Regions from separate parts of the Homo sapiens genome. Here region 2 is linked to region 1. Evidence: fine-mapped expression QTL. A gene starts in region 1. The other region holds a variant in brackets. All regions are shown on one strand. Distances are between the middles of the regions.

Region 1 (5,514 bases):
AGCACTTTGGGAGGCCGAGGTGGGCGGATCACTAGGTAAAGAGATCAAGAGCATCCTGGCCAACATCGTGAAACCCCATCTCTACTAAAAATACCAAAAATTAGCTGGGCGTGGTGGCACACGCCTGTAGTCCCAGCTACTCGGGAGGCTGAGGCAGAAGAATCGCTTGAACCCGGGAGGCGGAAGTTGTAGTGAGCCGAGATCGCGCCACTGCACTCCAGCCTGGCGACAAAGTGAGGCTCTGTCTCAAAACAAAACAAAACAAAACAAAACAAAACAAAACCCCAAATATTTGCTGAATGTCAAGGGAAATAACAGATTTGCAGGGAGTAGATGTAGGGGTGGCCTTGGTAGAGAAGGAAGAGAGTTCCTTAGCTTCTGCGCACGCTTCTTCCCTCCCTATTAGTCTTTTCTGGGGAAGAGGACAGAATGGGTGAAGCACTTGCCACCATAGACACTGGCCAGGTTCCTCATGCAATATTAGGTACGAACAGAGCAGGCAAGCACAGCTTGGGGCAGGACTCACCAGAAATCAATCCCTTCTGGTCCTGGGAGGGGGATCAAGGGTAAGAGTTGAGTGGGTGTGCCTGGGTCAGGGTAAGAGAAATTTTGAGGCTTGGGAAAGGGCAGTGTTGAGGTTTGGGGCTCCCTATGAACTATGGAGACTTTTGGGCGCTGGCCTCCATTCTCTGAGCTGCTTGGTAGGGAGTGCAGAGTAGGGTGGCCCACGGCTAGGGTGAGGACCAAAAAGCAGGCTTATTTGAGCCTCCTAGACACTATCTGGAGCTCAGAGTCACCCTCCACCCACGTCCCTGAGGCCCAGGATGTTACAGATTGCTGGTTAGGGCAAGGATGGGGGTTAGTGGTAGGAGGATATGGTGTTTCCTAAAAGGGAAAGGCAGTACCTACAACATTCCCAGGAGAGGCTCTCAGCAGACCTAGGACCAGAACATCTTGATGTCACCCACCTGGGGGCATTTGTATATGCCTACTAAGCCCAGGAGCTTAGCCCTCACACTTAGGGTTGGGGACCTCTTTTGCAAAGTATTTCCACTCTAAACTTTAGGAGGACAAGAAACTACTCTGAGTAGCAGCTCCTGGGAGGACAGTCCCCTCATCTAGGAAGCCCACCCGACTGCTCAGACATTAGCCCTTTCTCTTCCTACTCTTTCTGAGTCCAGCTTGGGAGCACTAGCTCATGTCACCCATCCTGCCCATTTTGGCTTGCTGCAGCTACAGATGGGGATCACCAAACACAAGATGTTTCCTCAAAAGAGGTCTTGAAAATCTATGAAAATCTATCTTATTTGTGAGTTACTATGTTAAAGGATTCTGAATTCAGCAAATAAAAACAGCTTGAATGGGCAATAAAAATGTGTCTACACATGTGTTTCCTTATTGACTGTAACTTGTTGAAGATGCTTTTGCACTGGTGGCCCTATCAGGTTGATGTTCACGCAGGCTCCTCACAGTGGGTGCTTTGCAGAACCTACCATGCCAAGAGGGCCCAGCTGCTTTGGTGTGTTTTGGGGGGCCTCAGCACAAAACAACAAGGCATTTTCATACTTGTCTGGCTGCAGGGAGCCTCTTGCAGTCCAGCCAGCCCCTGTGGCTGGGGGTAGCCCTACCTTAGGGGTCCCTGCCTCAGTGGCAGTGGTACCTGTGGGCTGGGCTGTTATGCCTGTGCCGGCTGCTGAAAGGGAGTTCAGAGGTGGAGCTCAAGGAGCTCTGCAGGCATTTTGCCAAGCCTCTCCAGAGCAGAGGGAGCAACCTAGACTCCCCGCTAGAAAGACACCAGATTGGAGTCCTGGGAGGGGGAGTTGGGGTGGGCATTTGATGTATACTTGTCACCTGAATGAAGGAGCCAGAGAGGAAGGAGACGAAGATGAGATTGGCCTTCAAAGCTAGGGGTCTGGCAGGTGGAGGCACCAGTCTGAAAGGAGGAGCTGGGGCTGAGGAATTGTCAAGGGGGCCAGTGCTCCTTCAGTCTGGGCTTCATGGTGTCTGTGACAAGTCAGGCAGCAGTTGGGATGTGGCTCTGGAGTTCAGCAGGGGAGGGTAGACCAGGCAAGACCCAGGTTTTTAGTTAGAGGTTACTGGGGAAATAGCTGAAGACAGTTTCCGGTGGATAAAATCACACCAAGGCAATGGGAACAGATCCAAGTAAGGCGACCGAGGAGGCACAGGAGAACGGACAGCCTCAAATACAACGAATGATCAGGATTTACATCATACCTCCCTCAAGGCCACCTCACATCTGACCTCTCTGTGGAGGGGCTATCCAGGCCGCCCCTCCCAGCGGGTCTTCCCTCAGTACTGGGCTCACTGTGTAGGCGCTGTCTCCCTGTCAGACTGAGTTCCTGGGTACTGGACCACGTCTCAAAACCCAGTACCCGCAGCTGGGTCTGGCTAGGCGGACGTTCTGGGAAGTTCACCGGCTCTCCCTGTCCCCAGCGTCCCCCGTTCTCCCAGCCTGTCCGCGCTGACAGCGCACCCCACGCAGCATCCACGCTCCGAGTGTGCGACTGGTTTACGGGCTCATCGGTCGCTGCACCCCAGATGCAGAGTCTCTGGAGACCCGAGCTCCGTGCCATGCACAGGAAATGCAGGAAGCTGGCGACACCCGGGGAGAGGCGGCCGCGGGCGTGGACAGACCCGGTTACCTGGGGTTCAATCTCTGGGAGCCGAGGCACGGGAGGGAGAGAGGCGCAGGCCCCGGCGGCCGCAGGGGGCGGCAGAGACACGCGGAGCGGCTCGACAGCAGATGGCCGCAGCCCCGCGCAGTTCTGGGCCTTTCCCGTTGGGTTCACCGTCGGGGAAGGATCGCGCGCAGGGGACAGCGCGAGCCCGGGAGGGAAGGACCCGGCTTCTCCAGATGCTTGGCGACAAAGGGCAGGAGCGGAGGGTGGCGGAGTGAGACCGCGCTGCCCGCCGGCGCCACACGCGGCGCGCCCAGCCGCGCCCCTGAGCCGCGCCGCCAGCTTAGAGTGGGCCGCCTCTCCGCCCTGCAGCTCTGCAGCTGGGAGAGGCGCGCTGGGGTCCGACTCCACTGGCGCAACCTGACGCGGCGCCGAGCCAGACACGTCCCGGCCGAACGATGCCCGGGCTGCCCCGCGACCACCGCCTCGCCGCCCGCTCTTCACCCCCGTCCGCCCGCAGCCCCGCCGGCCTCCCGGGGGAAGCGGACCCAGCCGCCCGCTTCCCGCTCCCCCGCCCCCGCCGCGTACCTGAGGCTCCCGCCGAGACGCGCTCCTGGGCCGTCGCAGCCGCGCGGTGACATCAGAGCCCCGGGCTCTGACTCCGACCCCACCTCCAGGCTCCGGCCGCGGCCTCAGGGGAGGCGCCACGTCCGGCCGCGGGGGCGGGAGCCGCAGCCTCTTGGTAGCGTCCGCGCGCCGGCCCAGTCCCAGGTCTGAGGGTGGACAGTGCGTTCCCGCGCGGGCCACAGGCCTCTTGCCCCAGGCCGGAGAAACCTGAGCGAGGTGGTGGGAGGGCGACTACGGCGACCGCCCACCGGCCTCCAGCGCGTCCGTGATGCTCGGGGGCCGGGTCCCTCGGGGCCTGACACCTCCCTCGGTGGGGAGGTCCAGGGCGGGCCCTTAGGCGCCTGACGGCTACCCGCTTTCCCCCCCAAGCCCGGCCAAGAAAACAGAGCTGCCAGGGCCTCGTGCCTCCCACCTGTCCCGCTGAGTAACTCGGCCCTTGATCAACTCTACCCCCAGACCCCCATTTCCAAAACTCTTCCAGCTCTTTGACTCCCACCATGGGCTCTTGTCTCCTGTTCCCTGTCCCATTTCTTTCCATTTCTCCCACTACCCAGCATGGTCTGGGCCCTCCAGCCTGCTACCGGGGTGGGGGAGAGGGGGGCGGAGCACGGGGAAGCCCCTGGACTTGTGTGCACCTTAGCTGTCCTGAGTGTGTCCTTAGGGAGCTGGACATATGCATACCCACTAAGGCTGGACACTGGCGCTCGAGGCCCTCACCTTCCAGGATCTCCATTTTCCAAAGAACGCTCTGCCTGCACCTGCCACTGAGCTCTCCTTGCTGTGTCCTCAGGCTCCCCTGCCCCGACTTCCCAAACTCTGTCCTATGAATACCACTCTGCCAAGAAATGCTCCGTTCCTGAGAGGGGCTGGGGACCCTTTGATGAGCCTCTCCGGCTCTCAGGTCTCTGCCTTTGTCCTCCGCTGCCCTCCCGCTCCCACAGGATCAACAGGGCTGGGCTCAGGGGCTGTGTCCTCCCATGGTAGTATCCCTGGCAAATAAAGGTTTATTGGTGTTAATAACCAGGACTCTGAACTCTGGCCAAGAGTCAAGGTTGCCACTTCCTAGGGACACTGGGAGCCTGAGGAACTCTGTCTTCTTGGGTCTTCTTGGGTTCGGAGGCAGGAGACACCTGAGCCCGACTTCTGAGAGTGGTGCCCGCTGGGCCCTGCTCCTTCTTCAACACCATCTGGACTCAGGCACCAGCTTCAGCTGGAGCGCTAGGCTTTAAGACAGTGCCTAAGAACCTTTCGGCTTTGAAAGACTTTTGTTGTTTGTTTTGCTTTTTTGAGACAGAGTCTCCCTCTGTCGCCCAGGCTGGAGTGCAGTGGCCGGATCTCTGCTCACTGAAACCTGCGCCTCCCAGGTTCAAGCAATTTTCCCTGCCTCAGCCTCCCAAGTAGCTGGGATTACAGGCACCGGGCACCACGCCCAGCTAATTTTTGTATTTTTAGTAAAGACGGGGTTCGCCATGTTGGCCAGGCTGGTCTCAAACTCGTGACCTCAGGTGATCCACCCACCTTGGCCTCCCAAAGTGCTGGATTACAGGCATGAGCTACCGCACCCGGCCTGAAAGACTTTTAATATTTTTAAGACCCTGATCCACAGAGTCTCACAGCAGCATCAAAATAGAAGAAAGACAGCCCAGCAAACAACAACAAAAAATTTTTAATTGCTCATGTTGGCTGGGGCGGTGGCTCATGCCTGTAATCCCAGCACTTTGGGAGGCCAAGGTGGGCAGATTGCTTGAGCTCAGGAGTTCGAGACCAGCCTCGGCAACATGGCGAAGCCCTGTCTCTACAAAAATACAAAAAAAAATAGCTGGACGTGGTGGCACGCACCTGTAGTCCCAGCTACTTGGAAGGCCTAGGCACAAGAATCGCTTGAACCGAGGAGGCATAGGCTGCAGTCTGCCGAGATCACGCTACTTCATTCCAGCCTGGGCAACAGAGTGAGATTCTGTCTCAAAAAAAAAAAAAATGGTTATGTTTTTTACTTATATTTCTTGAAAACTATGGGGACACAGTGTCCAGAACAATTCTATTAACCCACTCCACCCACCTACCACTCACCTCTTGCACACACTACAGCACCTCTCTGCTAGGGACCATGAGGACGCAGTCCAGAGCGATTCTTATTAACCCACTCCACCCACCTACCACTCACCTCTTGCACACACTAAGCAACTCTCTGCTAGGGACCATGAGGATGCAGTCCAGAGCGATTCTTATTAACCCACTCCACCCACCT
Region 2 (5,000 bases), 36 kb after region 1:
AACAAGAGAAAAATATCCTATTTAACACATCACACCAATAGCTGTAAGAGATGTTTAAGGTCCATTTCTGGGCCAAAAGCTTGGTGGAACAGAAAGAGGTGCTAACATTCTCTAGCAGCACTTCCGCTCAGCCTTGAAAGCCATTAAGTCTCTGGTGTTGCTTTAAAATTCCATCATATTAGCCCACCTTAACCAATGAGAGCGTTAGGAATAAACAATAAGCTCAAGTCCCAGATTTGTTTCAACTGGATATTGAGTTTTATGCAAAATAAAATACAATTCAAGGAACTAGGCTCAGCTCCTTTCTGTAATTGAAATGCAGAAGTGTCTATCATCTTCCCTCCACCCAGTTAACCAATCTGCTTTCACATACCTGTTACCTGGTCTCCAGGAGCCTGCTTGTGCCGGGTACAGGGGGTGAAGAGCCGAACAGTGTTGTAGAGGTGACTTCTATTGGATTTAGGAATCCCTTCCTTGGTAGCATATGTCTTATAGAGCTTCTTCATGTAGTGCAAAGCTCTGGAGTCTGGCTGCAGCCTAGGTGACCCACCTCGCCCAACAGATAGAACTTTGAAAAGCGCGGGAAGGAGGCCAGCTCTGTCTCTCTCATCTATATGCTGCAGCAAGGACCAAGGCATAGCCCCAGATTCCAACTCAGCACTAGCAGCAATCTGAGCTTCTCCCCCAGAAGCCTGAGAACCAAGGCTAATAGGAAAACACAGCCAGGCAAAGCAGCAAAACCAAAGGAGGAATTTGTTGGGACGTGCCATGGCTTGGGAGAACTAGTGAGGAACATATTTCTCCATGCCAGTCCTCTTCCTAAAGGCCAGGAAGAGCCTAGCTTGGTCTCTTAAATAAATTTCAGGTGTGTGGGTGGACTACGGTCACTTCTGTAATCAGGCCTCAAGTATGCCTAGCTGAAGATTTTATCAGCTCTATATCAAGCAGCTGATAACACCTTATTTAGCCAATTTGTTAATTAGATACAGATTTACTTGGTTATTTAGCTTTCCTCTCTTTTCCCCTGGCATTTACGTAAAACCCGTTACTGTTACACTACCGGACTAACTATGTAGCTGAAAGTCTAAGATAAATTGAGGAATGATCTTAAATAAAATCTCTCATTTTTTGAGAAATTTGGATTAAGATGTTCGCTAGGTGCTTGCTGAAACTTCTAAGGCATGTGGAAAAGCTAACCAATTATTCATGACGATACTCAGATCTGCTGGTATGCAACTTATGGTATTAGGTTTACTCTTCCTCTCAATTTATCCTCACGGCCTTTTCCACTTCCAGGTGTTTACAATTGTAATTATTCGCTGCATGTTAATTTGCGAATTTACAAATTTGGGTGAGAAAGTCACAATTGGCATAGAAGTTCCAGAAAGCAGAAAACCATTAGGTCTCTCAGTCCTCCCAGGTGGCTGGGTACAGAATACGTACTTGGAGTACTGGAATTGTATTTGCGATGTTCTTAAAAGAGGACACCGCCTTTAACCTTGACTTATTTTTAAATGTAACATACTGATGTCCTTACTTTGGTCTGCACACTCATCTATACATATTTTGGTTGAAAGGTTTTGGGATGTTTGCAGATGCTATAAAATAAATGAACGTTTTATTATTATTCATCCAAATGGTGGTAGAATTTGCCACAATATTTCTGTCCTTACCTGTATTTCTGTTCTTGCCTTGGAGCTGAGACCAGGCTAGACATTATGGTTTAAAAAAATGAGGCAAAGGAGCACCATGAAAAGCTGAAATGAGGGGATATTCAGCGCCACCCCGAAGGAGACTATGCTGGAAGAGTCAGCCTACACTCATAGTGCAAGATACGAAGCCAGTTTGTGCAGTACCTACATGAGAAAACTAAGGTATGTCTGCAAAATACAAGTTGACTGCCTGCCGAGCCTCCGTGGTCCGTAAGTAGTGTTATAAAACACAGCCAACTGTTGAATGAGAGCTTAGTCCTAGATAAAATATGGCCAGCAATTCCATTAACAAAACACTGACAAGACACCTCAGGGCGAGCTGTACATTGACAACAGCATCGTCAAGCAGAATGCACTTCAGGGAAAACATAATAAGGCCTCTCACCCGACTTTCCTTGCTTCTCACGTGGGGAGAAGAAAGAACTGGGGCATCGTGATTCCCCCCACCCCACGCAAACCATCTGGGGAGGACGCTGGCTGCTGTCGAGGCGGCCTCAGCATTCATCAATTGACGATTATTTGATTATTTTTGTGGCTGAAACTGACGAAACGTTTGTATTATCTCTTGGGAACGTTAACAGCCTGCCAGGGGACTCTAAAACAGAGTCCAAGAGAAGCCTTCGATGTGTGTCCCTGATTTTGGTGCTGGGGTCGCTCATGGCCTGAAAATAACGAAGCCCCCTTTGAGCTACTGGCCAAGGCCAAATGAAACCTCGTGCTCCTCTGCTGTGGGGCGGCCCGGCCTCGGGGCTCAGAGGCGCTCTGTCTACAGCTGGGAAGACTCGCAGGCCCCAAGCTCCTGGCCAGCGCTGCCCCGGAGGTCGGCAGGCCCCTTCCTCGTCACCTTTTTGTTCCCTCCCCCGCCTCCCGCATTCGGCCGCTTCCTGACTGGGATTCCACAGAAAAGCCGAGGGCTGAGGAGAAGTGTGAGCGCCTCCGCCTGTCCACTGTCCCCCAAAGTCAGTTCAATCCCCGACGTCCTCCGCTAGGCTCCACCCCACCGGCCCGGGCAGGGCCTCCAAGGCACCTCCCACCTACGGGTCACCCAGTCAGCCCACTTCTTTCTGGGACAAAGGCGTCATCCCTTAGAGACAGTAGGAAAATGGTATCTCCCGGAAGTTACCTCACGACCTCCAAGAGCGGCTTCCAACCTTGCCGGAAATGACGAACGAGTCAACCGGATCGGTGACTGTGGAGGGCGAGCTGAGCCCTGTGCGTGAGTGGGGTCTGGTTGTGCAGTGTTCGTGGACCCTGGGAGGCTAGGGGCGCCCCGCTGGGCTGGGAAAGGATAAGGAGTGCAGGGGCAGGAGTCTGGGGTTGGGGATGGACCCCCGCGGGGACTGCGGCGCTTCGCGAAAGCGAGCCAAGCGC[C/T]TGTCCACCCTCGGTCCTGCAGGGCCGCCGCCACAATGGGCCGCGAGTTTGGGAATCTGACGCGGATGCGGCATGTGATCAGCTACAGCTTGTCACCGTTCGAGCAGCGCGCCTATCCGCACGTCTTCACTAAAGGAATCCCCAATGTTCTGCGCCGCATTCGGGAGTCTTTCTTTCGCGTGGTGCCGCGTGAGTGCCTTGGGCCCGCGGGAGCGGGAGGCTGGACCCCAGCAGCAGCAGCAGTCACTGCGCCTCCCCTCTGAGCGCTGGCGGCCGGGCAGGCGCTCTGTAACTTGCCGTACACACCTTTCTCATTGAATATTCCTGACCGCCCTTAAGCTGGTCATATTATCCTCCCCATCTTACACGGGGAAAACTGAGCTACAGAACTGAAATGACTGGCCCAAGGTCACTCGGGTGATTCCAGCATGTTCCTCTGAGGTCACCTTTATTTAGTTCTTACCAGTGGTGAAATGCTTTGTGTTAAACGTGCAGCAGATAGTGATGATAGTTGCATGGCCTTGGATATGCTAAGAACTACTGAAGTGTATGCTTTAAAGAAGACAAGAGGACTGAGACCTTTTTTTTTCTTCTATATGTCTTATATGTGTGCTCTCTGTTTACTCTCTTAATTTTTAAAGAGTTTGTAGTGTTTTATCTTATCTACACATGGGGGACTGAAGAGTTCGAGAGATCCAAGAGGAAGAATCCAGCTGCCTATGAAAATGACAAATGAGCAACGCATCCGGATGACGGTTCCCTGTCTCTGAAAGACCTTTCTCTGGAAGAGGAGTCTGCATTGTAGTGTCTCAAAGACACAATAAACTTCCTATGGTCTGCACTGTTGTGATATTACATTTTTGTGAGTAGAATCCTGTGTGACCACTAATATTCAAGTTCATGAAGCGCCCCTCCTCAGCATGAGTCTTGAAGTTTTGCCTGGTCTCGGGTTTTGGTGAAAGAGCAGGGCTCCCCCTTTGTTCCATTATCTACAAGAAAGTAGCTGCAGGTACTCCTGCATCTAACCATTTGTGGGTGACATGGGCTATGGCGAGTGCTGGTTCTTGGCCCTCTGCTCCCATAGCAACAATAAAGTCTACTAACTATATTGTAATTAGTATGTGTCAGGGACGCTTTTATTTTTTATTTTTTGAGATGGAGTCTTGCTCTCTCACCCAGGCTGGAGTGCAGTGGTGTGATCTCGGCTCACTGCCATCTGTGCCTCCTGGGTTCAAACGATTCTCCTGTCTCAGCCTCCGAGTAGCTGGGATTACAGGTGCAGGACACCACACCTGGCTAATTTTTTGTATTTTTAGTAGAGACAGGTTTCACCATGTTGGCCAGGCTGGTCTGGAACTCCTGACCTCAGATGATCTGTGCGCCTCAGCCTCCCAAAGTGCTGGGATTACAGGCGTAAGCCATGGTGCTCTGGGCCTCAAATACTCTTCTTAGCTACACAAATGAACTGTTAAACCTCACAAGCACCTTTAACGTATCCTCATTTGGCAGATGAGGAAATGGGCACAGAGAGATTAAGTAATTTGCCAGAAATTATACAGCAGTGAATGGTGGAGTCTTGCACTAAAGTGATGCTCTTAAAACTATGCTCTATTGCAGGGGTGTCCAATCTTTTAGCTTCCCTGGGCCACACATAAAATACGCTAACATTACAATAGCTGATAAGCTTTAAAAAATGGCAAAAAAAACCCTCAGCGTTTTAGAAAGTTTACAAATTTTTGTTGGGTCGGATTCAAAGCCATCCTGGGCTGCTTGCTGCCCAGGACTGCGGTTGGACAAGCTTGCTCTACTGCCTTTCCTCCTAAGGCAGGCCTTAGCCTGAGGGGATATCAGCTATAAAACGGATGAGGTGATCTCTTAGCCTCCACAGCAGTTTTCTGTTTCTGTGCCAGGAGGCCA

The links.
Region 2: its variant is fine-mapped to the expression of SHROOM1 in whole blood (INTERVAL, PIP 0.90).

The regions. Positions count from the first base shown.
Region 1 is chr5:132,827,367-132,832,880 of GRCh38, forward strand. SHROOM1 (shroom family member 1) reads right to left here and starts at 3,281. Exons shown (of 10, transcript NM_001172700.2): 1 at 3,228-3,281; 2 at 95-241. RefSeq lists silencers at 2,650-2,959, 3,170-3,589.
Region 2 is chr5:132,863,764-132,868,763 of GRCh38, forward strand. It overlaps GDF9 (growth differentiation factor 9), which reads right to left and starts at 2,706. Exons shown (of 2, transcript NM_005260.7): 1 at 374-2,706. The coding sequence starts at 770. UQCRQ (ubiquinol-cytochrome c reductase complex III subunit VII) reads left to right here and starts at 2,879. Exons shown (of 3, transcript NM_014402.5): 1 at 2,879-2,924; 2 at 3,106-3,272; 3 at 3,725-5,000. The coding sequence starts at 3,119. The coding sequence ends at 3,819. RefSeq lists enhancers at 2,158-3,357, 2,216-2,716, 2,717-3,217. The variant C/T (reference allele first, on the strand shown) is at 3,084.